3 linked regions of the Homo sapiens genome follow. The protein of the gene in region 1 purifies or fractionates together with the protein of each later gene. This does not show direct contact. Each region holds a gene or a part of one and is shown in the gene's direction. Other genes may lie near its edges.

Region 1 (3,753 bases):
GGAAGGAGACATGAGTGGCAGGCCTGCTGGATTCTAACCTCTCTGGAATAGTCCTCTCACTGTTAATGCATGTCAGTTGACCTCTCCCTGATGCAGGCTGCTGTGGCCTCAGGAGCATGGCCTGAGAAGGGCAGAGAGCACTAATCTTGGGACACTTAACTCTTAAGTTGGATCTACCAATGCCTGACAGGCTCTGGCGACCCCTGGCACCCTCACTATCTGACTTTCAACAGTTTTGCACTGATCTCACTTAGAACTCAAATTTGCCTAGGTCAGGACAAGGACTCTGAACCCATAGATGTCCTATGCTCTAGTTTTCTCCCCTTTAAAAATGAGAGATGGGGCCAGATGGTACGTGGGGCTCTTTTCAGCTCTGAGAGTGTTCCCGGACTCTGATCCTGAAGCCTGAAGCTGATCTTGGGTCGCCAAGCTCAACTCTCCCCCAAAGCACAGGCTATAGGCTAGGCCCCACCCTGCTATCCAGTGAAACCTGCGGCTGGAAGAGAAACCTGTAGTCTGCTGCAAGAAAAGGGCTGTGCCTCAGGAGCAACACTTGTTGATCCTTTCCCCTCCCCATGTCCACTGATGAAGATGACTCCTGGGGGGAGCAGCTCACTGGCCCATTTCTCCCTTGAGAGGACCACTTCTTTCTTTTTCAGTGGTACCAGAATCCGGATTATAATTTCTTTAACAACTACAAGACTTATCGTAAGCTGCACCCCAATCAGCCCTTTTACATCCTCAAGCCCCAGATGCCTTGGGAGCTATGGGACATTCTTCAAGAAATCTCCCCAGAAGAGATTCAGCCAAACCCCCCATCCTCTGGGATGCTTGGTGAGTTCATGTCGGGGAAAAGACCTTGCATGTTTGTTTCTAGAAGAGATGAGCTTTTTTTCTGGGGTCTCATTCAGTCATTCGTTTGTTCATTTGTTCACTAAACAATTGCTAGGATTCTGCTCTGCTTGTAGACCATGCCAAGTTCTATCTAAAATACAGAGGGAAATCAGATAGAATCCTTTTTCCTGAGGGCATCTATTGGGGAGGTCAATCAGATGTCTGAGGCAATATTCAATTTGTGCCAGAAGGGAGAGACAACCTGGTGTCATAGGAGAGAGGACACCTTCTAGCTGGACAGTTGCTTATAGCCTCATGGAGGAAGTAGTGTTCGGTAGGCTTTGGAGAGGGGAGAATTTGGCAGAGGAAGATGGAGGGAAGGGAAGCTATGAACAGGGGAGGGAGGTGGGAAAATGAGGAGCGGGGCTGCACCTCAGACGAGGGGAGCAAGGCACTTTTCTCAGGTGTACAATTTAAGGGCGTACCCCTTAAAAACTCAGTCATCAAGATAAATAATATTTCACTACAGTATCTTCAGAAAACACAATTAATGTAAAAATTATGATGAGTGAAATATCAAGTATTTAAATAAAGATAGGATCAGTAACAGTGCTGTGCAGAGTTTATTGGAACAATGCTGGCCAGGGGCCCCCTTCTTGGATTTTCTCTACATCTCATCATTCAGACTGTGGAGTGCTCCTGTTCCAGCTGTCCCTTTGCCCAGCTAAGGGAAGAAAAGTCTTCCCTCCCCAACACTGTTTCATGCAAATGCTATAAGGAAAAATCTGCTCCCAAATAGCACCATCCAAGAGGTTCTGCAGGATGTCACAGTGCTAGAAAGTGCTAACTACACATGATGCCACTGTCTCCTCAATCAGCTCAGTAATCTTGTCCTCTTTCTCCAAATAAATTATTCCATGGATACATTCATTGGCTGATTGATGGAGTCATTTAATCTACTAGCATTTAGGGAGGATCTATTATTCACCAGGCCCTGGCCTAGGTGCTGGGGATTCAAAGGTGTATAACCCTCACACAGCCCTGCATCCTAAGGAACACTGCTGGGCTTGGCTTGCTGAAACTTAGATTGGGAATCACAGTCATAAATAGAAACTCCAGAGGGAAAGCTCTCCAAATTTGGGGTCATGAGCTGCTGAACCCACTGGGCAGAGCTCTGGGGTGCTGGGGTGGGTTGTCAGGCATGACTCACCTCTGCTCCCCTCTCCAGGTATCATCATCATGATGACGCTGTGTGACCAGGTGGATATTTATGAGTTCCTCCCATCCAAGCGCAAGACTGACGTGTGCTACTACTACCAGAAGTTCTTCGATAGTGCCTGCACGATGGGTGCCTACCACCCGCTGCTCTATGAGAAGAATTTGGTGAAGCATCTCAACCAGGGCACAGATGAGGACATCTACCTGCTTGGAAAAGCCACACTGCCTGGCTTCCGGACCATTCACTGCTAAGCACAGGCTCCTCACTCTTCTCCATCAGGCATTAAATGAATGGTCTCTTGGCCACCCCAGCCTGGGAAGAACATTTTCCTGAACAATTCCAGCCTGCTCCTTTTACTCTAGGGGCCTCTGTCAGCAAGACCATGGGGACTTCAAGAGCCTGTGGTCAGGAAATCAGGTCCAGCCTTCCCTGTAGCCAGACAGTTTATGAGCCCAGAGCCTCCTGCCACACACATGCACACATATCTAGCATTCTTTCCAGACAGCATCCTCCCCGCCTTCCACCTTGGTAGATGCAAGGTCTATCTCTCCCATCAGGGCTGCCAAAGCTGGGCTTTGTTTTTCCCAGCAGAATGATGCCATTCTCACAAACCAATGCTCTATATTGCTTGAAGTCTGCATCTAAATATTGATTTCACGTTTTAAAGAAATTCTCTTAAATTACAATTGTGCCCAATGCAGGGTGGCTCTGGGGGGCAAGTAGGTGGTACAGGGGATTGGAAACATGCTCCGCGCCTCCAGAGAAAAGTTGCTCCCGAGGTCCATGCCCCTGGAACGTGTTCCTATCACTCTGGCTGGTTGGGCTGGTCCTTAGACTGGGTGCTTATGATTAAAGGGTCTTGGTTAGCCCACTTTCCCTCTCCATGTGGAGATGGAAGGTAGAGAAGGATACAGTGTCTATCCTCAAGTTGCTACGGTTCAGTGAGAGAGGCAGACATCTGAACAGGCAGGTAGGATTCAGTGTGCTCAGTGCACTGGGGATTTGGAGAGAGATGGGCTTGCTCTCTCTGTGCACCCAGGAGGGCCACGCACTTAAAACTGTGTTTGTGGATCAGAGAAGGCTTTATAGCACAGGGGGCATTCAGATGAGTCTTAGAGGAAGAGAAGAAACATGGCAAGCAGATTACATCTGAGCCGTTTGAATTGTGTTTTTCTTTCTTCCCATGTTTATTTTCTAAGATCTACCTGAACTTAGAGACTCAAGATATTTTTTTAGGAAACCTCCTACCCATGTCTGAGGTAGCAAGTGCAGCCTCACGACAGATACCAGGCAATCCAGAGCCACAAAACGTGATTCCTCCAGGCTCTGCCTGGCCTGACCCTGTCCTGTCAGCTGGGTTTACATACCAGTCCCATTCTTCCTTTTCAATACCTACCCCCAAATCTTCTCCTAACCACCATCTGTTTTTTTTTTTTAAAGCATTTTTTGCTTTAAAAGCATCCTGACCCCAATTTCTTTGAGCTCACGGGCCTTTTGCTGAAGGTCTCTCAGGGTGTAGTGGTGTGGCTCTCTGGACTTAACGTCACTCTCAGAGGTCAGAACCTTGGAGATCAGAACTGATTCTCACCAGGTGTGAGAGGTGTGGTAGCAGATTGCAATGCTCTGCACCTCTTCCTTGCAAGTGAGCAACTTCAGGCTCTCTGGGCAGAGGCTGGCCCACTGTAGTTTGCAGACATGCT
Region 2 (3,753 bases), on another chromosome or scaffold:
TAAAACCTATCTTATGCGGGTAATACATAATGGACTTTTTAAAGCAAATTGTTTTTCAGACATAACGCCACTGATAACACAAGATTAAGTATCTATCTCTTTTTAAAGATGATCCTGATAGGTACATAGATGTCCTACAGGGTCTAGGGCAAACCTTTGACCTCGCTTGCAGAGATGTCGTGCTACTGTTAGATCAAACCCTGGCCTTTAATGAAAAGAATGCGGCTTTAGCTGCAGCCCGAGAGTTTCAATCTTCAGGGGAAATTAAGTTCCCTCTTCACTGGGTAGATTAGAAAATGGTGAGTTGTTTTCTAAATAAGAAGGATCAAATTAGTCAGTTTTGCTACACTGGGAAATCCAACTCTCATGGGATAGTTGTTACCCTGAAAGTAGGTTATCCAGGAGATGAGGGATCAGATGTAACTAAGTGAACAACAGCCAGCCTCCATCCAAGCAAGAGCCCATATTCACAAAGAAGGAAGAGTTGCTGATGCCTTTACGGCAAAGATTAAAAAAAGGCATTTTAGATGTATATTAATTTACTTAATCCTCGTAACAACTCTGAGATATTATCATGCCCATTTTACAGATGAGCAAATGGAGACACAAAGAGATGAAATAATGTGGTCAAGGTTACATGCTAGTAAGTTGCTGATCTGGAATTCTAACCCAGGAAGTCCTGTCTCCAGTGTCTATGATTTCACCCACTACACTATACTTCTTAAGCATGTCAAGAAAGTGAGAACTTTAAATTGATTTAATTAGACTAACTCTGAAAGTCTGAAAATAAAATTGATTCATTGGAAACTTTTCATCAGTCCTTATTTTGGGGGATATTCAATTTAGTGAAATTTAGTATTTCAGTAAAGGTTAATTCACTACATAAAACAATGTGATTTTTTTCCTTTGAGGCACAGTTTAGTATTGTGATCAAGATTTCCCTGACTCTCCCAGCGGTCTGAATTTGGGTAAATCACTTCACTACCCCTTGACTCAAATTCCGTATTTATAAAACAGGTAAATACTGGTATTATCTTCTAAGAGTGTTGTGAGGATACGCAGATTTTTTAAAAAAGCAGTTAAAGCCTTTAAACAGTAATTATAAGCAGTTGTCATAATTATGCCGTTGTTAGACTTCTAGGTCAATGAATCAGAAAATTTAAATCTCAATGTTTGATTATAAAATCTGGTAACAGATGGGTGAAAAGGAACCTGGAATGGGTTTACTCTCCAGGAGTTCACATTTAACTTTTCTTTCCGAAGTTCCGTCTATTAACTCCTGTTCTATGAAGTGGTAGAAAAAGATGAGGTATTAATTTTCTTTCTTAACAAATATTTGAAGGCATAGTTGGTGTTGGCGAAGGGAGATGAGGAAGACATATGTGCTTTCTTATGATATTAAAACCTGGAAGACAATAAAAACGCTGATCAAATAATAAAAAGCGTTACCTATGGCGGAAAAGGAAGCTCAAATGTTCTTGTCAGGGGAAAACGACACAAAAACTGAAAGAGGGAAACAAAACAATTGCACAGGTGATATGCATTAGGGTTGTTAGGGATAATTTCTGCGCCCAAGGCTCTTATTAGTAATGAAATACGGTGTGAGGAGCTGAGATTCGTTCTGCAGTCTCAGTGTTAGTCGGAAAGTAACCCCTCCCTTCCCATAGAAACAGAACCGGACTGGCGGCGCGATTACACCTAAAACAAGTTGCAACCTCATTTCCCTGTAGGCACGCCTCTTTTATCTTAACCACGCCTCTTCATTCCCTAAGCACGTCGTAAGCAAAGGGAATATCGCGAGATCTGTACATTGTCTCTTTTCTGACGTTTTCAGCTGTGATAGTCGCTTTTGTTCTCGCGATATTTCCGGGTACGCGGGAGCCCCGGCGACCCGGGCTTCTGTGAAACATGGCGGTAGGCTGGGACCATAACACAAGGTAAAATACTGAAACACCGCTGGGTGCTGTTCCCTCGGTTGTTCCAGGGCTGTTTAGGGCGTAAATGCAATTGAGGGAACTGGGAGCCTGTCATGGGCTTGGCTTCCTGTCTTCATTGATCTCTAGAGAGCCGGTCGGACGGAGAAGCCGCTCCACCTCCCACGGGGGCGTTACTGGCAGGACCCTAGGCAACGATGCTACTGGGAGCTTCCCTTTGCCAGGTCCGGGTGCTTGTGTGCTATCCTGCAACTCGAAGGAGTTCAGGTGCTTCCTCGATCGCACCTGATTCTGACCCTTTGCTTGTCACAGTGCCCGGTTCCCAGGTGGTTTCTCCAGTCCGCAGGCGAGTAGGATCCCAATCGGTCGAGTCCCAGTCCTCCCGGATGTCAGACTCCCTACCCCCATTCAGACAAATGCCACATTCGTGGCAGCACGTTGCCCTCTGTCTCTTTAAGAGTCTTGGCCTTGCCCGGAAGGAGTTTCGCACAGTGCTTCGGAAAATGAGAAGGGGGCGGGGGAGGGCGAGATGCTGAGAGACAGGTTCGACTGTCACTACTTTTCCTCGGCGCAGGAAACCTTCCGAAGGCAACGTGTCAACTCGTGGTGGAGAATAGCCTTGTTTATCTGTAGTATATAGAGTTGACAGGTCATTGTTTGAGAAAACACGTTTAAATAACTTTTATATTTTAGTGCCCCCGAGACTTAAAGACAAAGTGGCATAATAGCTGTTAAAATGTTGCCAGACTGGTTTTCAGAAGCAATGAAAGTTACAGTTAAAAACAGGATTTATTCATTTGAAGTTGTAATTCAGTATTTCAGTTAATTGCCTAGCCTGATACATTGGACTCCAGTATACAGCAATTATAAAGAATGAGCCTGGCTTGTTCACTGAAAAAAGACATGGTTATTTACCTAATTTGTTTGTTGATATCTTTAAGTTGTTGTAATTATGCCAGTTCTAGTGGAAAACATGAGGAAAAAAATTCTGATTTTTTGGGAGGGTGGGGGTTGGCGGTGCAGGGATGGATAGAGAGAGGAGGATTTTTTTTTTTTTTTTAAATGATGGTGAACTTTAGTATACAGTTGCGTGTTATAATGGCTTCCTGGTACAAATCATAAAAATATATCAAGTTTGAAAGATCTCTCAAAGGAAATCAGGCCTAGTCTGGAACAACGAGAGTTAGGGAAACAACAACAACCACCCACACATTTTCTTTCTTTGGGGATTGATGATTTAAGTGAAAGAAATGGCTATTTTTTTTTTCTTTACCAGAAGTTACTTTTAGGCAGTCAGTGCCTGCTAAAAATCCTATTTAATAGTTTCCCAATATTTATTGTAATTCTGCCTCTTAATGTCATAGTGGTCAAATTATTTAACCTCTCTGTGCCTTAGTTCCTTCATCGGCCAAATGAAATAATGATACTTAACTCATAGGAAGGTTGTGAGGATTGAATGTGTTGAAACATACAAAGCATTTAGAACAATACCTGGCACACAGTAAACACTCAATGCATGTTAGCTCTTGTTATTTTTTATTTTCATTTTCTAACATCTGTAGTTACAAATGTTGCCTTGTTACTTAGTCAAAATGTAGACTGAAGAAGATATTGTTTAAAATAATATCTTTCTGAACTCCAGATTGATTAAACACTCTGATTGGTGTGGTTAATGTGTCCTTAAACTCCCATTATCCAGTTGCTTGTTTTCTTAAATTATTATCCTCTTTTAATGACTAAAGCATAAGTTCTTCCTTTCTATTGCTCTATATAGTCACGTTGTAGTGTGGCTCAGATCTACCCTCTGAGTGCCTTATTA
Region 3 (3,753 bases), on another chromosome or scaffold:
TAACTGTGGTTTCTGTCTTACCATATTTTATGTAATTTAAATCAAAGAGAAAACATTTTCTTGTGCTTTATTTTACATTGAACATTTAACAACTTCATTAACGTTGCACATCATTTGCTTTTTTTTGCTCCTTGTGTTTATATGCCAGTCTTCAATAAGTGACCGATGTTGGGACTCTGATGTCTTGCCAAGAGTGATTACTAAGCCTTACAGGTCATTAAAACTGTTTATTGCTAATCACTAGAAAATTAATTTTTAAATTGATCTGCTTAGTGTTTTTCTTAGTGCATTCTTAGTGCTGAGTAAGCCACATCAAAACCTATTAATTTTGTGTCCTTTATCCAAGTGAGGGATAAATTCATCATCTTTCCCTAAACCTGCTTCATCAGTATTCTCAATCTCAGTAAATGATGTAATCATTATCCTATTTGGATAATGTAGAAGAAATGGAGAAGCCAATTACTGAATCTTTCCTGCCCCAGTATTTTCCCATTGCAGTCAACTCCCAACCCTTATTCCTGACATTTTCTGGGATTCCATCCATGCCAATCAAGCCATTATTGTTTCTCATCTGGAGAACTGCCACATTCTTTTACTTGAATTCCCTGCCTCTATGCTTGCTCTTCCCAAGCCTAGACTTTAAAGCTGTTTTTGCAAAGTACGCACTCATTTCACTCTCATGCTTCGGTCTTTTCAGTTGCCTTCCTTAGGATAAGGTCCAGAAAAACAAACAAACAAACACAGCTTGGGTACTACATACATCACCTGGGTGATGGGACCATCCATATTCCCAAACCTCAGCATCATGCATGTAACAACCCCCAACATGTACCTTCTGAATCCAAAATATAAATAAATAAAATAGGGGAAAAAAGAATGAAATAAATGAAAAATTCTCAAAAAAATAAAGTACAGCTTATGGACCCAGTAGCGCTATCCTTATTCCTTGTACTCTGCGTTTCAGTCATGTGAAGTTTGCGTCACTTCTTCAACTGAACCAGGCTGTCTTGTCTCCAGGCCCTTGCACAGTATGTTTCCTCCACCTCAGACACTTCTTTGCCCCTTCATGTTTCTGTGTAAACATCATTTTTCTTAAGATACCTTCCCTGACCCTGCAAACTAAGTCTCCTTGCTTTGTGAAGTTCCTAGCCCATAGTGCTACATTAGTACCACTTTATTGTAATTACCCCACTTGGAATCTTCTTTCCTTTTAGAGTATAAAGTTTATGAAGGTAGGGATAACATCTTATACATCTGTTTTCTCAACTCCTAACATAGTGCCTGAAATTTGTAAGTACTTAAATAAACATTTGCCAAACCATTGTTTTAATTGTTCACTGTCTTTTCACTTGTTTGGTTGAAGAACTAAGATTTTGAGTTTCCAAACTATTTAGATTTTTGAGAATCCAAACGGTTGATCATAAGAATTAGACTTACATGGTTTTAGTGTTCTCAGCTAGGGAGCTAGGTTAATCCTGAGACATTTTCAGAACATCATTATTGTTGATGCGTGATGCAGCGGACCTTAACGTTCATACTATAAAAATCGCAGTCTTTTTTTGTTCTGATTATTCAAGCAAACCAAAATGATAAAGTATCAACTGGTAGGTTTCTGCGTTGTTGCTTTTATGAGATAGAGCCAAAAAGTTTTTTTACTTCTTGTCCTGTGTGTGTTGATTATATTATATAATATTTGTTTATTTTTTGCTGTTTCCCCTATTAGAATATAAAAGCTCTAACGAACACAGAGACTTCGTTCCTTTCCTTGTTTTATCCTCAGCACCTTGAACAGTGGCTGGCAGAGTAATAAATATTTATTGAATGGAGGAATGATTGGAATCCCCTGGACAGTAAAGTTGTTGATTCAGTGCTTTTACTTTTCCTATTTAGTTCTGAAAATCCAGAATGGCTTGATGTTTACATGCACATTTTACAACTGCTTACTACAGTGGATGATGGAATTCAAGCAATTGGTAAGGTGGTTTATCGGGATGCACTACAGTTACTCATTTAATTGTTTGCTGATTTTAAAGTACTGCTTTATTTGTCCTCTTTATTAAGTACATTGTCCTGACACTGGAAAAGACATTTGGAATTTACTTTTTGACCTGGTCTGCCATGAATTCTGCCAGTCTGATGATCCACCCATCATTCTTCAAGAACAGAAAACAGTGCTAGCCTCTGTTTTTTCAGTGTTGTCTGCCATCTATGCCTCACAGACTGAGCAAGAGTATCTAAAGATAGAAAAAGGCAAGTACAGTTTCCCAGGCTCATACTGTTTTTCATTTCATTTATTTCTCCCTTTTAAAAAATGCTTTCATTTCCCTAATTATAAAAACATTACATGCTAAACTTCAAAAATTTATTTTATTATCATATTTATTTATTTTATTTTTTATTGATTTTTATTTTTTGGAAACAGAGTCTTGCTGTGTTGCACAGGCTGGAGTGCAGTGGTACAATCTTGGCTCAGTGTAACCTCTGCCTCCTGGGTTCAAGTGATTCTCGTGCCTCAGCCTCCCAAGTACCTGGGATTACAGGCGCACACCACTATGCCCAGCTAATTTTTGTATTTTTTCAGTAGAGACGGGTTTTTACCGTGTTGGCCAGGCTGGGCTCGAACTCCCGACCTCAGGTGATCCACCCACCTCGGCCTCCCAAAGTGCTGGGATTACAGGCGTGAGCCACCCCACCTGGCCTGTTTACTTATTTTAAAGCCAGAGTCTTATTTTGTTGCCCAGGCTGTAGTGCAGTGGCAGGATCATAGCTCACTGCAACCTTGAATTCCTGGGCTCAGGTGATTGTCTCACCTCAGCCTCCTGAGTAGCTGGGACTACAGGCACATGACGCCACACCTGGCTAGTTTTTAAATATTTATAGAGACAGGGTCTCACAATCTTGCCCAGGCTTGTCACAAACTCCTGGGCTCAAATGACCTTCCTGCCTTGCCTTCCAGAGTGCTGGGATTACAGGCATGAGCCACTGCACCCTGCCGAAAAATTTATAAAAAATATCAAGGAAACATGATGTTTGTAATCTTACCATCCCACACATGCACATATATTTAATTCTGCTTTTTAGCCAACATTTCATTTAGAAATATAAAATGAATATTTTCCTATATAAACACATATTCTTTCACAGAATTGTTTTTATGACCACAATTAAATTCATGATTCATTTAGAATTTATTCTCGTGTCACATGTGAAGTGTGGCTTTAATTTTTTTTCCCCCTTTGATAACTTTGGTTCTAGTGGTATCAGTTTTTTCCCAGAGGGCTACCCAGTTATCTCAACATCATTTAGTGAATAATCCAGCTTACCCACACTGATTTGAAATTTCATCATTATTTTTAAAATTCCCCTATATATTCTGTTCAGTTCCATTGCTGTATTCATATATTAGTAGCCATAGTGTTTTTAAATATTAAGGTTTTATGTTTTAATACCTAATAAGGCAAATTCCTCTTCATTCTAAGTTTTCAGAATGTTTTTAACTATTTTTATCACTAACTTTGAGTTCCAAAAACAAAAAATTTCTGACATTTTTGTTGACATCGTGTTAACTTGATAGGATATGTTATGCCCTTTTATTTGTTCAGGTCTTTTTTGTGTCCCTCAGTAATGGTTTCTTCATATGGATCTTGGATATTTCTTATTAGTTTCATTCCTAGATAATTGTATCTTTTGGGTTTACTATTGTCTGTGACATATTTTCTTCCACTGATTATTATTGTTGGAATATATGAAGGC

What was found.
Region 2: the proteins of ST6GAL1 (region 1) and ERGIC2 purify together in Homo sapiens (affinity purification with mass spectrometry; 2 studies listed by BioGRID and IntAct, with this or other methods). This does not show direct contact.
Region 3: the proteins of ST6GAL1 (region 1) and SAAL1 purify together in Homo sapiens (affinity purification with mass spectrometry; 2 studies listed by BioGRID and IntAct, with this or other methods). This does not show direct contact.

Annotation. Positions count from the first base shown.
Region 1 is NC_000003.12:187,073,500-187,077,252, forward strand, and holds part of ST6GAL1 (beta-galactoside alpha-2,6-sialyltransferase 1), read left to right. Parts: intron 1-659; coding exon 660-834; intron 835-2,062; coding exon 2,063-2,304; 3' UTR 2,305-3,753. UniProt on the Homo sapiens protein: Transfers sialic acid from CMP-sialic acid to galactose-containing acceptor substrates. In B lymphocytes, generates neuraminidase-sensitive lymphocyte cell-surface differentiation antigens, such as CDw75, HB-6 and CD76.
Region 2 is NC_000012.12:29,379,299-29,383,051, reverse strand, and holds the start of ERGIC2 (endoplasmic reticulum-Golgi intermediate compartment protein 2), read left to right. Parts: upstream 1-1,879; 5' UTR 1,880-1,937; exon of another isoform or gene 1,938-2,583; intron 2,584-3,753. UniProt on the Homo sapiens protein: Possible role in transport between endoplasmic reticulum and Golgi.
Region 3 is NC_000011.10:18,085,363-18,089,115, reverse strand, and holds part of SAAL1 (protein SAAL1), read left to right. Parts: intron 1-1,890; coding exon 1,891-1,973; intron 1,974-2,061; coding exon 2,062-2,250; intron 2,251-3,753. UniProt on the Homo sapiens protein: Plays a role in promoting the proliferation of synovial fibroblasts in response to pro-inflammatory stimuli.